2 separate regions of the Homo sapiens genome follow, and region 1 is reported to be linked to region 2. Evidence: microRNA targets listed by miRTarBase, many of them from high-throughput screens and not tested one by one. Region 2 holds a microRNA gene; the other region holds the end of a gene's coding sequence.

Region 1 (5,076 bases), not on the chromosome of region 2:
GAATAAGGGTATATAGGCCGGGCACGGTGGCTCATGCCTGTAATCCCAGCACTTTGGGAGGCCGAGGTGAGGAAGGAAGGAAGGAGGGAAGGAAGAGAGGGAGGGAGGGAGGGGGGAGGGAGGAATGAAGGAATGAAGGAAGAAGGAAGGAGAAAAGAAAAAAGAAAGAAACCTGAGTGCTACCCATATTCCACAAAATATAGCACCGTGAAAAAACTTAATTTTATATTGCAATTTAATCAAAACTTGGTAAAGAAGCTTTGCTAAAAGATGAGAAACAAAAAAGCATGAAAATACTTTCACACTAGTTTTTGAAATAAGCCATAAAAGTGACTTTAGAATATTCTATTTCTGATAAACCTTTCATAAAGCCTCACGTTCCACAAAAATATTGGGGATGGGGTTAGCATTTAAAACAATGGACTTTACATGTCGAAAGTTCCATCCCTTCCCCTAGAACTATTCATCACAGAACTCAAAATGTTACTGTAATTGTTTAAAAGGCTGGACAGCAAAGTATACTGAAAATTATATATGATGCAAGTCTCCCTTTTATGGATGTGAAAATTCCAACTTGAAGATAAGTACCAGTTGGTAAATGTACATAAAATGATTTCCAACATACATCAGCTGTAAAAGGTGTTTAATTCCCCATTACCACAAACATACAAATTTTTGAAAAATGCTCAAAAAAGTTTTATCAAAAAGTTAGAAGTGGCATTTATATCTTTCTCTCTCAATCACTCTATTATTGTCTGATGACAATCTATGGGATTAAAACAAAAACAACAAAAAGATAAATAACAGAAACGTACTTAAAAGTATTAGAAGGCTGAGTTAAATATCTGAGCGCACAGTTGTGCAGAATGAGATTTCTAATTTTACTCAGTTACTTTGTTACTTTGCATCTGCGGGAAACAAAGTATTATAGAGAAGAATTCCAACACAAGCCTGATTTCTGGGGAGGGAAAAAAAAGAAAAAAAATTAAAAAGGGAAATAAAAAGAATAGAGGGACACAGGTATATGACAAAACCTGGACTGGTTATCTAGAAGGCATAATGAATGATCAAGCAGTAAATATACAGGCTAAGAGCTGTAGAGAGGCAAAAAGTTGGCAGACTGTCCTCCATACAAAATGTTCTCTTTTTTTGAATGTCTGAGATAAGGTGTGTCAAGTTGGGGAAAAAACTTTACACACATACAAGTGCACAAACACACATATACAAAAATTTAGTAAGTAGGCTAGTAGGCTAGTGAATGTTTTAGAGAGCATCCTATTGCTGAAAGAGAAACACACAGTAAGCCATAGAAGAAACACACAATTCAGATTTTATAAATATATACACACACTAAGATCTTAAAGCTGGGAATTTAAACATTATTAGCATTTATGAGAAATATTACAGCTCACTGACTATTCATATCTAGCATAGGATTAGGTTTATACATGTATATGCTCTCACGGGCCTAAATATAACAGTGTTTTTTCTTAGCAATTTAAGATTTAGGCTTTTCTTCAAAATTCTTTGTTCATTTTGTACTTGCTTTGCTATGGCTGGACCCAGATTTTACGTAGGTTTAAAGGGCCTCAAAGAAATTAAAATGATAAAGTAATCAATGTGATACTAATTACAACACATTCACAGGAGGTGGTATTACAAGAAAGCAAAGTGTAAATTGGGGGAAAAAAAAGTCCAGATATAAAAGTAAAAATACTATCTTCCAAACTTTTATTTTCACACTTATTAAAATAATTTGCATGCAAACAGAAAATTATCTGTTTGTTTAATAAATGATAACTATGTTTATCTAACATACCCTGATGACTAACTCTTTAAATCTTAATAACTGAAATAAACATTACAGCAAAATGCTGTTCACTAATATTTTCACAGTATTTCACTACATATAAAATATGCTTTAAAATGTCTTCAGCCTTATTATTCTAATTATCTAATTCTAGAAAATCTTGACATTTGGGAAATAAATGTGGCATTTTTATTTTTCAAAATAAATTATAAATAAAGCTCCAGATAGCCAAAATCACACAAATGTCAATTCTTCTACATTTCAAGAGGTCAGCTCTTCATAGAAGAATGTCAACAAAAAATTTCAAACTAAAATGATACATGTGATCCATATTTGGGTATATCCAGGAATTTAAGTAACTATGTTACTTAGATCAGGATAAGCCAAAGTATTATTGATTTCAGGAATACAGGCACAATTTAGTCTAAATGCCCAAGAGATAAATAACCGAAACAGCACATTTTAGCAAAAATCAAATGTAGTTTCAAATAGGAACGTTTTGAATCTCTACTATGGTTTAAAGTGGCAGCTGAGTTACAACCAGAAGTAGTTTTGGTTTAGTGAAAAAAAGACTACAACAAAAAAATAGCTTGGTCTGCTGTCTAGTAACAGAAGTTAGTGCCATTAACAATTCACAATACTTTCTCTTAAAGCCTGAACATCATTTCCACTGCAAGTGAAAACTGCTTAAAGATGTTAGTCCAAGAATAACCCTACTGCCGACCCTACCAAAAAAGCAAAGTTTTATGTGTGTACGCCTTCCTCTGCACTTAAGGGTTTTCAGATGCATGAAATGATTGAAAGCATGAGACAAACACATTAGCTTAAGAAATATCCTGGGATAGCTAGGTATATACTAAGAAGTCTGTTTTATCCCATGAGCCTGATCTAAGTGCAACAAATTTGCTGTTACAGAAACAGAAATTGCTATTATCCCTCTTACCTCAGAAATGTAAGTATCTAACAAATGAACAAATCTGTAATATTAAATTTGGGGAGTAAAACTGACCTTGGAACTCAAGCTCACTTATGGAACCATGTGCACTCTACTGCTGTAAACAAGACAATAAGGGTTTTTAAAGATGTTTTTTATCTATAAAATAATGATTCACAACATGAGTGTGCAGTGCAATAAGGTTCTTTCCTGAAAGACTAGAACAGAAGAACCCTTTGGAATGATATGAGCAGAATCTATAAGTTGATTCATAATACTAGCTAGCCAAAACATTCCAAATCAAACCAGGTGCTTTGTTAAATTTTAAGATTCAAATGAAAACCAGCAACTCACAGCTGTTAAATGGTAAGTGGAGCAGAAATATATAAGCAGTAGCCCAAGTCTACTTACACAAATATGTTCTAAGAAAGCCTAAGGTGGTAGAGCATACTATATTTATGAAACTTTGTTAATTACAATTATTAATTTGAGAGCCAATACAATTATTAACAACCTCTCAGCTTATAACTTATGGGGTATTCATTCCTACTAAGCTTGTTCTATTTCTCCTTAGTCAGTAAGGAATAACAGCATCTATTTTCCTTAATGTTTCCAGTAGTTGTAGTTAAGAGGTAGCTGAGCTACTGTTCAAAGAAGTTGTTCTTTGTGGATGAGGATTTTTCAAATGTTTAAGTTATTTAAGCTACACAAATTCTATTAATGCAATAAAATGTGATAGGAAAAAAATTGATGCGGGAAACTTTTGCATTTGGCACCTTGTCTAGATTGATACCTCAAGTATTCTTTTTTAATAAAGTTAATGCACACATCAGAACACACCACGAAGATCTGCTACATATTTACAAGGCACCAACCCTTTCTCACCTTTAACGTGAATTATGCAAATCAATGAAAAGCATATCAAGATCCCCCCACCCCCCAAAAAACTGTAGTATAAATATATACTTCAGTTCAGTACAAGTCATGAAAGTTTGGCCTGGGAAGAGTAAAATAATCCAGATCGCTCTTACAATATAGAAACTGTAAACATTTAATAGCTGCCTTTAGGATTGGTGTATTGTGCAAAAGTTATTATTACTGGGTATAGGAATCAAAATGGCAAAAACAAACTATATAAAACTCTGTAAGAAGGTGCTATACTTCTGTGATACAAAAGCAAAAGAGGGCTATTCTATTGAGATAAAAATGTCATGCTACTCTTAAGAAGCTGAATGCTCCTTTAATGTAGTAAATCTGTAGTGTCTGTGTTGTGTTTCGTGTGTGTGTGTCTGTGTGTGTGTATGTGTGTGTATGTGTTTGTGTGTGTGTGGGCAGAATTTCTTTTAATTTAAGGCCTAATGAGTAAGGCTTATTTGAACAAATGAAGTGTGGAGATCAAAAGTCTTGAAACAAATGTATACTGGCATAAATGGAAAAGCACCAATGTGAAAGGAAGCAGAAGTCCCCACACAACTTGCTTTGTAGATTTCCTGGTAAATTCCCTGCAGTAGAAGGCCATTGAATTTTTTAAGTTATTCTAAATTTATTAACTGTTAATAATTCCATCCCATGAGATGGCTAACCCTGGCTTTTTCTGTCATTTTACGCACTCTGCCTGATCTGGATGTACCAAGATTCAGAGGATCCTCAGTGGACACAAAATTGTCATTATCAGAATCATCATTATATAAAACAGTCCTCCTGCCTTGGTTTCTTGTTTTAATTCGAGGCAGTCTACTGAAACGTCCTGAAAACATGGTATCAAATTCATCATCTGCAATACGTGCTCGTTTGGCTCTGGTAGCTCCTCTAGAAGCACCTCTTCCTCCTCTCCCTCTTCCCCTCCCCCTAGTGCCACCTCCACCTCTTCCTCGACTCCCTCGTCCCCTGCCTCCTCTTCCTCTGCCTCCTCTACTCCATCTACCCCATCTTCCCCATCTGCCTCTTCCTCCTGTGCCTCTGGTCTTCCAATTTCTTTTTCCATTGCCATGTTGCTTTCTGAGTTTTCTTTTAGGTCTGGTTTGTATGAATTTGCTATAATCATGGTCTCCATCTACGTAATCTTGATCTGTTCTGGAAGTTGATTCAGAGTCAGAGTCAGAACCACAGGTACTTTCAGAACTTAAACTGGATCCTAACTCTCCACTCTCTGAGGTGGATAAATGAGATTTCTCTTTTGTTTCTTTTTTCTCTTTATCTTCTCCTCCCATGTTTTCATCTTCTTCTGATGCACTAAGTAGTTTTCTCTTGATTCCTGTCCGGGGCTCTCTGCCATCACCATTTGTAAGGGGTCCATCAAGGGAGTGATCTAAATTAAAATGAATGATTTTTA
Region 2 (5,077 bases):
TCAGAGCTCACTGCAGCATAGACCTCCTGTGCTCAAATGATCCTTCCACCTCATCCAGCCAAGCAGCTGGAACTACAGGTATGTACCATCAAGTCTTGCTATATTGCTGGGATTGAACTCCTGGCCTCAAGCAATTCTCCCAGCTCAGTCTCTCAAAGGGCTGAGATGATGAGCATATGGCACCACAACCAGCCAATATTTCTCGTTAGGTCTCAAGCAGTCATTGAATATCTGCATCCATTCTGCTTCTCTAAAAACTTCTTTACACATCCCTTTTTGATTTTACTATTTGACATCTCTAAAATCTCTTTCTTTTTAAGAGCCAAATCAATAAATGAAGAGACTAATTTCACTGTCAATGCCTTGTCGTTCTTCACTTAGGAGAAATAGGGTAAAAGCAAAACCTCATTACACTACTTTTCTCAATCAAAAACTTTATCAACTTCAGGTTTCCATTCTTACTAATACCAAGAATCAAGAAAACATTCATTTGTTCTTAACTTAACTAGCTCAAATTCTCAGGAAGATGTGTTGGCTACCAACTTGGATTTGTCTTGATAGTAGAATGTGTGGTTCAAGTTAGAGAGTACACGAGAAAATCCAGGGTCAACTGGTTATTTAAAAAATTCTCACTAAAGAGTTTAGTGTCAGAAGAAATGATTTATCAGACTCTGGAACACAGAAAGAAGTACCTAAGAAGAAAAACACCCAACCTCACTAATATGATTTTCATTCTGTGCACAAATAGGTTATTGCTTTGAAACAGGTCAGAGTCTTGAGCTCCAAACAAAGTGGAGCTGTGACTGTGAAGAGTGTGTGTTGATGGGTGCAGAGGTAATGAGATTGCAAACTCAGAAGAAAAGCAAAAGAAAAACAAAAATGAAGAAATCTTGGACTGATGCCTATTTTTTTCTTTCTGTAACTGCGGCCCTTTTTGGAGGAGTTCTAACGATGGGTTAAACCACAAGGAGAAAATTAAACTTCTCTTAAATGTAGTTAAAATCCCTAGAGAGACATGAGTTTGTCACGACTGCCTGAGAAGATATTGGCTGGGATTAAATATTGAATGTGTCTGCCAACAATGACTGCCTGACGTGACACACGAGAGTTTCTCAGTGAGGAAAAAAAAGACCATGTAAGAGTACATGGATTTTATATTTTTCTGTGACTTAGATGTTGGTACCATTTATTAGACGAAAAGAAAAGTGCTGGAGCAGTTGGGGATTTTAAGAAACTACAATTATTGAAATAAGAGCTAAGTGTGATAGGAGGTAAAACCAACTGGGGATATGTAAGAGGTTTGCTGATAAATGTTTAGGGCAGTGGGGAAATAGGATTCCATAGATCCTTTACTGCCAGCAACCTGGTTACATGCTTTTTCTTGATCATAGATAAATAACTTAACTGTAGAAGGTAAGAAGACAAATGGAAGGAGTTAACAGATATTTGAAGATATGCAGATGGTGGGAGAAAGTTCAATGGTAATTGAGAATTGGTTCGCTGACAAGAGGGTTTTCCATAAGAAATAGTCTCTCTATTGGTTTAGAAAAAGTGTAGGACATTAGTAATAAGCTTTTGAATCTCCAAATTATGCCCAATAAATATTCGAATTAGAGTTGCTTCCAGACAGAGATGCCATTCATTTGGGAAGTTTCCCACCCCCCTTCAAATTTCTGAATGGGACAATAGAGGTAGAACCCAGACAACTGGGACATCTTCATAAAATATTCTTGAACATTCATGAGTTGAGTTTAGTGCTATTTGGAAGGAAACTGGTAAGCCTGAGAAAGGCACTAAATTGATAATGAAACACTAAAAAATAGCTTATAATTTGGTGGCATTAATAATTTCAGGTACTCTTTTATGTTTATCTACATTATACCATTTAATAGTCAGAATATACCTATGAAGTAGGTACTATTATTATTATCATTCTACAGATAAGGCAGATAAGGAGATTGAGACACAGAGATATTAAGACTCATACTTAAAGTCACACAAGCAAACGTTAGAACCTGGACTTCAGAGATCTGGCCAGGATCCTGTTCAGTACTTTCGATGTTACTCTAATTCTTCTCTAATTTGGGTTTGCTTCATGAATGTTTCTATATGCTGACATCTTTAAACTTCTGTTTTCTTATCTTTAAAGTTGGAAAAATATTTTATATTTTTTCTGATTATCTCTTGCTCCATAGTAAATTACCCTAAAACAGTAGCTTAAAACAATACCTTTAATTGATTTCATTCACACATTTTTTTCTGCCAAGCCTCGGGCAGCAGTCTTTCTCGAGTCTTTTCTATGGTTGTAGTCAGTTGGTGGCTGGGACTGGAGTCATCTTAAGGATGAATCTTCTTATCCTAGACACTAGGCATGTGAGTGATTGTCTTCCTCACTCAATCAGTCACATATCTAGTGTCTAGAATGAGAAGACTCAAACATCTGGGGGCTAGAACACCTCTTGTCTCTTGATCATCTCTCTGTGTGATCTCACCATGTGTATATGTGATCTCCAGCTGGCCTCTCTAACACATAGTAACTTCAATGAAACCAGACTTCTTATATTGTAGCTTAGGGTTTCAAAACCCAAGACAAAAAGAGCCAGGTAGAAACTGTATTGACTCAAATAACCTAACCTGAAAAGTCCTGTAGTGTCACTAAATTGTACTCTATTCCTTAGACAATTCACTAAGGTCAGTCCATATTCAAGAGGAGGGGAGTTAGACTAACATCTTGAGTGTGGTAGGCTAAATAATGCCTCCCACCCCCCACAAAAGATGCCACTTTCTAATCTCAGAGATCTATGCTATGCTTTACATGGCAAAGGAAACTTTGCAGATATGATTAAGTTAAGGATCTTGAGATGGAGAGATTATCCTGGATAATCCAGGCAGGCTTAATGTAATCACAAAAGGTTCTAATAAGAGAGAGCAGGAGAGTCAGAGTCAGAGAAGGAGATGAGATGACAAAAGCTGAGGTCAGAGTGAGGCCAAGCCCAGGCAAGGCAGCCTCTAGAAGCTGGAAAAGGCAAGGAAACAGATTCTCAACTCAAGCCTCTGGAAGGCTGGAGCCCTTATTTGATTTTTGATCCATTTTGGACTTCTAAATTCAGGAAATGTGAGATATTAAATTTGTGTTGCTTTAAGCCATTTACTTGGTGGTCATTTATCACAGCATCAATAGAAAACAAATACAAGAAGTATCAACTAATTTGTGGGTAGATTTTAAGACTATCACATCTATCATCCTCTTTGATTGGTTGTTCACTAAAAACCCTGTATTATGTGTCTTTCATGTGCTAGCATTGGGTTATATCCCTAAGGATTTAAAGATAAATTAAACATGATTCTTTTCCCCATTATGCTCATAGACAGTATTTATGGAAGGACTTTGTGCAACTCTAAAGGGTAATATAAATGTAATATATTGTGAGTCACTTCCAAAGTTTAATATGCAACCCAACCATTCCTTAATTTACTAAATCGTAAATCAGAATCAATATTTCAACAGATTGGAATTATGCATATATTATGAGTAAATTGCAAACAAATACAGAAGATAATTTGAAAATTAAATGTCAACAGGATTTGCAATAGACATTTACCATGTCTCAAAGTAAGAAAACCTGTTAGAATAAGTATACTGTGGGCAATCTCAGTGTTACAAGGCTGCTAATGAGCCTCTAGTACACTAAGAGACAGCCCCTAGGGATGAAAGGGGAGGATGGCTTATTCTTTCACTGAACTCTTAACTGAGGCAGCTAACAAGGTGCCCAACTGTGATTTAGACACATATCCAGTAGAAACTGGAGATAGAGTGTTAATTTAGTTTGTAAGGGTCACTGAACTAATTCCATTAGGTGACAACTTATGGTCACTACTGATAGGAACAAGAATACAAACCCGAAGCCAAAAAAGAGGGAGAAGAATTTCTTGAACAATCTCACTTACCAGGAAAAGCAATGAGAAAAGAAGCAGTCACTCAACTGAGATGCCTATTTTTGTTATGATATTTAGGTCCTGGAACACCTTTCCACACATGACAGTCACAAACAAAAATATGTAGTGTGACTAGAATATATAAACAAGGTCATGAAAATAAAGTTGATATCCACTAAGCCTTTTTTTAGAGAGCTACATCCACTTCAATCCTTGAAGAAAGTTGTCTGTTCAAAGGATAACAACTCGCAGGGTTAGATGTTAAGAAAGGGGAGTTATCAAGGAAGCTTACAGAAGGGATATTCAGTGGTCTGTCTTGGGTACTGGTGGGCTCTCTTTCCATAGCACAGCTGCCGGCAGCTGGCCAGCACCTCAGGCAGGCAGCTGGTAGGGGAAGAGTGGCCTCTGCCAGCTGGCACTAAAAAATTAAAATTAAAATTAAGGGAAAAAAAAACCCACCCTGAGGCACAGATGCATAACAATCAAGCATTCAGTTTCTGGTGTTCTCCCTTATTCTTCAGTCCTTAGGGAAGCCCAGCAGTGAGGTAGCTCCTCTCTCCCCAACCCAAGGTCCCCAGGCTGCTTTTCTCTGGTTTAGATTCCCTTTTTGGAGGTTTCTCTGTGTTCATGCATCCAAAACACAGTTCTTGAATCATAGCATGTGCCAAGCAATGTGCTAAGGGCTGAGGATGGAAATATAGAAATGAATTACATTTCCTTACTTCCATCAAGGTGCAAATTAAAAGGGCTATAGCTGATTTTTAAATGCCCATAAATAACGACAGAAAGTTGGATGACCATAGTGCTTACGAAACATAGAAGAGAGCCCACAGTGGATGAAGCAAGACAAGTATCACATCAAAAAAGAATAAGAATTAAGGCTTTCTCAGCTGAACAAATGGGAATAGCCTCTTTAAAAGGAATGAACATGAGGAAATAATGGAGGCATAAAATGGAAATTGAATTTTAAAATGTTACTGTACTGTTAGAGTACAGTCTGAGCTGCTACAACAAAAAGACCAAAAACTATAGAAGCTTTGAAATGTCATATATCTCTCTTTGATGGTATGTTTCAGCCAGATATGGCTCATAGGACAGCCCTGTCATCCTCAGTATGCAGTTTCTAGCTTCTGGATTACAG

Evidence for each region. Region 2 holds the annotated microRNA hsa-miR-4704-5p (GACACUAGGCAUGUGAGUGAUU, at 2,362-2,383, shown strand). A microRNA usually pairs through its seed, bases 2 to 8, with sites in the 3' UTR of a target mRNA and lowers its output. Matches are read on the target gene's strand: a 7mer-m8 pairs with bases 2 to 8, a 7mer-A1 pairs with bases 2 to 7 and ends in A, and an 8mer does both.
Region 1: the mRNA of BRWD3 is a reported target of hsa-miR-4704-5p. Seed matches in the 3' UTR shown: 7mer-m8 at 302-308.

What each region holds. Positions count from the first base shown.
Region 1 is chrX:80,672,312-80,677,387 of GRCh38, forward strand. BRWD3 (bromodomain and WD repeat domain containing 3) reads right to left here. Exons shown (of 41, transcript NM_153252.5): 41 at 1-5,052. The coding sequence ends at 4,298. Among named protein-coding and RNA genes, the nearest start is that of BRWD3, 140 kb to the right of the region's middle.
Region 2 is chr13:66,215,898-66,220,974 of GRCh38, forward strand. It overlaps MIR4704 (microRNA 4704), which reads left to right and starts at 2,353; the gene lies at 2,353-2,427.